2 linked regions of the Homo sapiens genome follow. The protein of the gene in region 1 purifies or fractionates together with the protein of each later gene. This does not show direct contact. Each region holds a gene or a part of one and is shown in the gene's direction. Other genes may lie near its edges.

Region 1 (3,821 bases):
AAATCCTTTCGTGAAGTCTGGGTGTGATGTATCTCCCACCTTTATCTACCAGATGTTTCTGTTTCTGTAATAGATGATTCAACACGCGTTCCTCTTGGAAAAAGCAAGGACTACATCAATGCTAGTTATATTAGAATAGTCAATTGTGGAGAAGAGTATTTTTATATCGCTACTCAAGGACCACTGCTGAGCACCATAGATGACTTTTGGCAAATGGTGTTGGAAAATAATTCAAATGTTATTGCCATGATAACCAGAGAGATAGAAGGTGGAATTATCAAATGCTACCATTACTGGCCCATTTCTCTGAAGAAGCCATTGGAATTGAAACACTTCCGTGTATTCCTGGAGAACTACCAGATACTTCAATATTTCATCATTCGAATGTTTCAAGTTGTGGAGAAGTCCGTAAGTTTTTAAACATCAGTATTAGATATATGTTTCACCACATAAGCAGATGTCTTAGAACTAGAAGTTAGGAGTAGGATGGAAAATCGATCGATGATACTTCTTAAGTAACTTTTTACTTGTCCCTGGTACCAGAAGCCACCACCACTTCTACTTCTCCTCAACCAGATTCTGTGGAGAAGAAAAAATTGGAAAAGAGAGGTGGGGCAGGGAGAGTGACTGTTGAAGTTGTCTGATTCTGGGTTATACCTGCCTCTGCCAAATGTAGCAGATACGTATTGAGTCCTTAAAGTATGCTAATCACTGGGCCAGGCACTATCAGTACTTACCGAATAGTGGAGAGGTTGGTTACACTCACTGATAGATACCTAACTTACCGTGTTCAGTGATAATGTTGAGATATGTCTTGGGCACTTTGGGGCTCAGAAGGTAAACACTTGGCTTTACTTGGGGTTTTGAGACAGGTTTACTGGAGGAGGTGGCATTTGTTTTGAGAATTATGCAAATGAAAAAGATGGAGGGAGAAAGTAGATGATCAAAATATAAAATAGCATAAGGTGTGTGTAGAGACAAATATAAGTAGTTAAGTGTTTCTGAAATGTAAAAGTTCAGTGCCAGGGAGTAATAAAAGATGAGATGAGGTTCTCAAAAGTAAGCAGGGGCCAGCTAGAATGTGAAATGTCTTAAATTTCAGCTAAGTAGCATGAACTTTATTATGAAGATAATTGGGAGACATTGAAGAATTTTAGTAAGTGACATGATCAACTACGGCTGTTGGCATGGGGGTGGAAAGCACAGACGCAAGTGTTTTGCAGATAAAATTGGGAGACATATGTGACTTATGACTTATGATTTATAAGTGACAGAGGAGGGGTTGAAAATATATTCAATACAGTAACCACATGTGGATATTTAAGTTTAAATTTAAGTTATTTAAATTTATGTAAAATAACAAATTGAGTTCCTCACCTGCAAGTAGCCACATTTTAGGGCTTATGAGTGGCATGTTGATAGTGGCTACTATATTGCCACTATTTAAGACATTTGCTTCAGTATAGGAAGTTCTGTTGAGAAGCATTGGTCTAGAATAATTCATGGATTCCTTGGTCTAATAGACTTAGAAAACAGAAAAGGAATGGTTTATAGGAGAAAGCAATGAGTTAGATTGCTCTAGTGGATTCAGTTGGCAGGTAGGTGATACATGTGTTAACACGAGTGAAGGGAATAGGAGTTGAACAGGAAACTTGCAGAGAATGGTGAGTTTTGGAGTCATCACCAAAGAAGTTGATTGGAGCACAATCACCAGGAAAAGGGTTGCTGAGTGATGCTGAGGTTTGACCCATACATTTGTAGTAGCAACAAAATATGTGATTATGTGTATTTTTCTAGCAGTATAACATTGAGATCCCTGAATACAGGTTATGGGACTGATCCAGAGAGAGAGATTAATTTTAAGGAGTTGGTTCAAGTGATTGTGGAGGGTTGGCAAATCTGCAGGGTGGGAAAGTAGGCTGAAGACCCAGGGAAGAATTGGAGTTTGAGTCCAAAAGCAATCTGCTGGTAGAATTCCTTCTTGCTCATGGGAGGTCAGTTTTTGTTCTCTTAAGGCCTTCAGCTGATTAGATGAAGCCAACCCACTTTATGGAGAATAACCTGCTTTACTCAAATTCTACCAATTTAAATGTTAATCTCACCTAAAAAATACCTTCACAGAGGCACAAAATAATATTTGGCCTAGTATCTGGATACCAGGGCTCAGCCAAGTTGACACATAAAATTAACTATCACAAATTTCAGTCGACACTGTGGATTAGAATAGAGCTCTGAGCACTAGCATCTTTATTCAGAAAGCTTAGGAAAAAGAGGTGCATTCGGGAGAAGCATAGGAGAAGTGAGAAACTCATTTTGAGTTCTTCCATTAGGGTCCCATGTGTGATAAAATAAGGGCCCCACACTGAGGAAAGGGTCATGATCCCTTTGGATGAGATATAGGTAAATTCAAAGTGCTTTATCTGACAATGCTGGGAAGAGTTTCATGACTCCACTTCAAGGGGGCTCAGCACAATAGTGGGACCCACAATCTACTCTCATGGTCATTGACTACCCTGTCTTCATCGCTGGAAGAGATCGGTGCCTCTCTTGTCAGACACCTATATGTCTTAATTAAATTTCATATGTCATTTCTAAACTAAGATACTTTGCCTTTTGGTCTTATTCCTAACATGACAGTCCATCTCTCACTCTAAGCATTTTGAAATCTTGGTTTTCCTGTAGCCTCATGGTACAGAAGAATGATGGTAGATTAGAATTCAAGACACCTACATTACAGTTCCAGCTCTAAACGTGTGAACCTTCTGACCTAGCATACATCTCTCGTCCCCCTCATCCTTAAATTTTCATCTGTAAAATGGAGATAAAATGGTGCCTATCTCACATGGTTGATGTGAAGATTAAAGGAGAGAATTCATGTGAAGCCCCTAGCATAGTAACTGCCACATAGCAAGTGCTTAATTTTTGTTACCTGTTAATACTGGTATTTTTATTGTTGTTACTGTGCTCTCCTTTGTAAAATGGAGAAAACCTCTATTCCTAGCAACTTCCAGAATTCTTATAAACATCAAAAAGAGGTTTGAGTACTTTTTGAAAGTTCTATATAATACCAAGGTAATACCATATAGCCATTATTATTATCATTTGAATATTAGAAGTTGGCGTGAGGTCTCTAATATAAGAAATCAATAAATGTCTTTCTCGCTCTGTTTCTTTCTCTAACAGACGGGAACTAGTCACTCTGTAAAACAGTTGCAGTTCACCAAGTGGCCAGACCATGGCACTCCTGCCTCAGCAGATAGCTTCATAAAATATATTCGTTATGCAAGGAAGAGCCACCTTACAGGACCCATGGTTGTTCACTGCAGTGCCGGCATAGGCCGGACAGGGGTGTTCCTATGTGTGGATGTCGTGTTCTGTGCCATCGTAAAGAACTGTTCAGTAAGTGTGTGAATCAAGCAGATACACTGATGCTGTTGGTGTTTACACACTACATTTAATAGCCTGATCATTTGGAAGACTAATATTTGGTCTTCAAAAGCAACTTAGTAAATCAAAAGCACATGAGCTTTGGATACCTGATTCTCACCGAACTTGCTGCAGGTTCCTGGGGGTGTTTGTGAGGATTAAAGTATGTATTGTAAATAATGGCTTAGGACAGTGTCTGGAACATAATAGATACACAGAAAATGTGAGTTCCATTTCCTTTTCCTTCCCTGTATCTTACACGGGGTGTTTAGACTCTTACTAGAGAATGTTGATGGAATGTGCCTGTTTTTAATGAATATAAGTGACAAGCACATAAGAATGTGAGAAAAAATGTAGACTTCTGAGTTAATGAGGGGTCCCTGTTTGACTGCCTG
Region 2 (4,554 bases), on another chromosome or scaffold:
ATGATTTTCTGTCACCTGGCTTCTCAGCCATGCCTCCAACCAAGCTATCCTCAAATAAAGACTAACCATGCACAAAAAGTGAAAAATTACACAAGACCTACTCAAGGTCTGAAATGGAAAGTGCAGCTGGTGATTCTGAGTAGTATATTTTATGAATTGATGAGCAGGGAATTTCTAGGTATCACAGAGCAATCAGCAGCTGAGGAGAGAGCGACAAAACCAGGACTCTGACAGGGCTTTTTGGAAACTTAATTTTTGGAGCAATCAGCAGCTGAGGAGAGAGCTACCAAACCAGGACCCTGACAGGGCTTTTTGGAAACTTAATTTTTTATTGTCAAATTATACAGACAAAAATGAAAGTAAAGGTAGTGAGGAGTACCACACACCTTTACTTAGAAGGATAAATAAAGGACACCTTTGTAGGGAGAAAAAAAAAGATATAGGACGAAAAGTAAACATGGCAAGGTAGACTCAGAATACAAAATTTCAACAAATAAGTGCGAGAAAAAGAATGAGAAAGAATGAGTATTGGAATATTACAGATAAAAATCCTTGGTGAGAAAGAACACTCTGATGAAACAGGTGACATAATTACTGAGTAAAAGCAGAAGACCAATCAAGGCAATTGAGGCTTGGACAGGTATTACAAATTATCTTAGATGAATGTATAATTGTGGCCATTTAATTATCAGTGATGACAATTACAATATTTATTAGAAGAAATAAAGTAGAGGATGAATTCTATGGAATATTCTGGAGAAAGTGGAGGTCTTAGCTATATGACATCGTGTGGCTCACTTAGGGAACCATATATTCAGTTTGTTCAGGTCTAGAAATTCCTTGGTGGTTTCTGAGTTCAGTTTTGCTTTAATAAACCCTAAAGATATTTTTAAAATACAAATATTTTAGCTTGCCTGTGTTGTATAGCACCAAGGCTTGCCTGAGTGTAGTGAGATTCACAGAAGTTTGGACAATTCTTGTAGCCTGAGCAGGCTGCCAGCACCTTTCTCTCATATATGTGTGCCTGGGAGTGTGCTGTCCTCACACATCTCACAGATAAGCAAGACCATCTCTGTTACATGAAAAATTTAGCTAAATGTGAAAATATCCACGCACACACATCATGAGAGATGGAAAGAGGCTATCAAAACAGTCAGAGATATTGACCATCTTCACTGTTAGCTGTAGGATCAGTGTCCACCCCCCGACACACCCACACAAACTCACATACACAGAAATGAAAAGCACAGTGAAAAGCAGAATAGCAGTCTTTCCAAACAGATTGAAAACCAAAAGATGTCTAAAGTTCAATCCTGACACTGTGCCGACTGCTTGGACACAGTTCCGTCAAAACATTTGTCCAAGTCATAGTTGTGCCTTTTAGGAATTAGACACAAACAATATCCTACCCAACCCTTCCTGCTGAGCTAGAGTCCCAAAAGAAATGAGGGATACACTTGACCTGAAGTAAGCAAAGCAGAAGCCAGTCTCTGAGGCGAGGAGGCCCACCTGGTAGGGAGCTCAAATGCACCATTGTCCTGCTTGTCTTTATAAAGGGAGCTGACACGTTTCTCCCAGCACAAAGTTGGGAGTGACACCAGAGCCTCCTGCAAGATGCTTCTGATTCTGCTGTCAGTGGCCCTGCTGGCCTTCAGCTCAGCTCAGGATTTAAATGAAGGTAAGATGAATTGGGGGAAGATATTGTGACTCTGATTGGGGTTTACAGGCAAATGCTATAGAGGAGGAAAGTGGAGGGAAGAGAGGAGGATGAGAAAACAGATGGGACTGCAGAGTTCTCATGCTGAGGATCAGAAGATCTATTGTACCTCCATTCCTCATCAAGGCCTCATAGTTTATTTGTTGCACAAATAGAATCCAATAAAGAATTCGTACTAGGGGTGTGAGAGAGTGAGATTTGCATTATATAGAGACATGGGACTGCTGTGAAGGATGTGGAGAATGCAAGACAGATTCAGGGAAGTACAGCTGTGAAGATCCTGTACTGATCCCAGTAGACAGGGATGATGGTGGCCTTGCTGTACAGTGGATGAGCATTAATGAAGGAGATAAACACATGTCAGAGCTACTGCCGAGGCAGAGAATTGGGTAAACACTTGTCTCTGTCTACATAGAGTTAGAGAATAACCAGAGTGAAACATTGTCATTTTTCTGTCTCCTGAATGTAGTATTTCAATGTGCTGGGAATGGCATGCGTAAGATTATATCCAAGTGGCTATGTCTGGTGGCTCCTGTTGAGAAGGCTTGCAAACATAAACAACATATTTACAGATGAAAGAGGGCAGAAGAATCCCCAAATATGTCATTGAAATACTCAGAGCAGTTTAACTAAATAAGCGCTAAGGGTTTACAGGCAAATGCTATAGAGGAGGAAAGTGGAGGGAAGAGAGGAGGATGAGAAAACAGATGGGACTGCAGAATTTTCATGCCGAGGATCAGAAGACCTATTGTATCTTCATTCCTCATCAAGGCTTGGGGAATCAAAAGAGGACAAACAGGGGCCCTTCTATGTTGAGTTCCTGGTTGACGCTCAGTGTAGTAACAATACTGCTTTCCCTTACATCTTCTTCCACTTCCAGTAGCATCAGAGAGTGGCTGATGAGATCACAAAGGGGATGCACAGGGTGTGATCAGAGGTCCTTTATCCTCGTAGAACACTATGAGCCTTGAATGATTCAGGAAGTAACTTTTCCCATCATCCTGTACTTCTTTTCTAGATGTCAGCCAGGAAGATGTTCCCCTCGTAATATCAGGTAAATCCCAATAAATTCTCAGTAAACTCTGTCTCCATTTTTCCCTGAAAAATTGATGAGTTCTCCAGTGTCTTCTTATCACCATTTTCTTGTCAGGAATTGGCTAATACCAATGCCCCAAAGATACAAACAGTTTTCTCCCAACCTTGATTCTGGGGACCATGAGTAAAGAAATTCAATTTTTCATCACCCTTATGTGGATTAAGAGGAGTTCTAATTAGGAAGCCTTGGGAAGGGGGGAGGTTGGGAGTTGAGAGGCAGGTCAGGCAGAGAGGGGCCGGCCGTGTGGTGAAGACAGAGAGGTATGAAGACAGGAGGGTTTTCCAGCATGAGCTCAGCTCTTCTTGTTTCAACTCACACAGATGGAGGAGACTCTGAGCAGTTCCTAGATGAGGAGCGTCAGGGACCACCTTTGGGAGGACAGCAATCTCAACCCTCTGCTGGTGATGGGAACCAGGATGATGGCCCTCAGCAGGGACCACCCCAACAAGGAGGCCAGCAGCAACAAGGTCCACCACCTCCTCAGGGAAAGCCACAAGGACCACCCCAACAAGGAGGCCAGCAGCAACAAGGTCCACCACCTCCTCAGGGAAAGCCACAAGGACCACCCCAACAGGGAGGCCATCCCCCTCCTCCTCAAGGAAGGCCACAAGGACCACCCCAACAGGGAGGCCATCCCCGTCCTCCTCGAGGAAGGCCACAAGGACCACCCCAACAGGGAGGCCATCAGCAAGGTCCTCCCCCACCTCCTCCTGGAAAGCCCCAGGGACCACCTCCCCAAGGGGGCCGCCCACAAGGACCTCCACAGGGGCAGTCTCCTCAGTAATCTAGGATTCAATGACAGGTACGATTCCAGTTTATTATCCATCAAAGGCTCCAACTGCTACAGTTCTCCAACTTCATTGTGCCAATGAATCCTCTGAAAACCTGTTAATATTGCCCTGTCCTGGAACACATTTCTAAAAATTGTTATTCAGATATTCTTGTATAGAGTATCAAGACCCTGTGACCCTGTGTTTTACAGAAGCTCTTGAAGGCAATTCTGATTTTGAGAATCACTATCTTCAAATTACATGTCTTAAGTAGGGTTGACAATGAGGACATAGAACCATGTTCCCCCTTTGGCTCTCTCTATTTTCTTTCCTCAAACTCAGACTCCCATTTAAAGTTTTCACCTGAACATGCTTTGCTCAGTCCTGCCTCACATCAGGCTTTCAGGTCCAGTATTCCTGCTAAGTGGTCCTTGAACTTTCAGTTGTAAAATGGTATCTCATTTTTAGTATACTTACATTTAAAGTCATACATGCTTAAGCTAACAAAAACTAATCTCACTGAACCGAAATGTACAGAGCTAAATAGTAAGAGCCTAACTCATCTTTCCTCCCTTCTATCCTTCTCAAAACCCCCACCTTTTACTCTTTGGAATCTACTTTTTGAAATATATATTGCTACATAAATATATATAATGCTTTTATTACAAGCACTTATACCATACTGTATATTCAGATTTGTGTCTTACTCACTGGAAAAATTTATTGTTTAGAAAACTTTCTCATGAGTTCATTTAGATCTCTTCAGTGTTTATTGGTTAGTTTGTTTTTACAATTGTATACTATTCTATTGTTTGGTTGTTCCGTAATCTATTTAACCAATCCCTGTCACTGGATATTAAGGCTGGATTCACATTCTCACTATTATATGATATGTTGCAGTGCCCATCTTTGTAAAAATAGCCCTTACATAACCAACAGCAGCAAAGCATGAACACATAACAATAATTGTT

What was found.
Region 2: the proteins of PTPN20 (region 1) and PRH1 purify together in Homo sapiens (affinity purification with mass spectrometry, with the first as the bait; one large-scale study listed by BioGRID). This does not show direct contact.

What each region holds. Positions count from the first base shown.
Region 1 is NC_000010.11:46,984,157-46,987,977, forward strand, and holds part of PTPN20 (tyrosine-protein phosphatase non-receptor type 20), read left to right. Parts: intron 1-73; coding exon 74-408; intron 409-3,183; coding exon 3,184-3,399; intron 3,400-3,821. UniProt on the Homo sapiens protein: Tyrosine-protein phosphatase targeted to sites of actin polymerization in response of varied extracellular stimuli. Has tyrosine phosphatase activity towards various tyrosyl phosphorylated substrates.
Region 2 is NC_000012.12:10,881,278-10,885,831, reverse strand, and holds the start of PRH1 (salivary acidic proline-rich phosphoprotein 1/2 isoform a preproprotein), read left to right. Parts: upstream 1-1,576; 5' UTR 1,577-1,614; coding exon 1,615-1,678; intron 1,679-2,735; coding exon 2,736-2,771; intron 2,772-3,133; coding exon 3,134-3,597; 3' UTR 3,598-3,615; intron 3,616-4,554. UniProt on the Homo sapiens protein: PRP's act as highly potent inhibitors of crystal growth of calcium phosphates. They provide a protective and reparative environment for dental enamel which is important for the integrity of the teeth.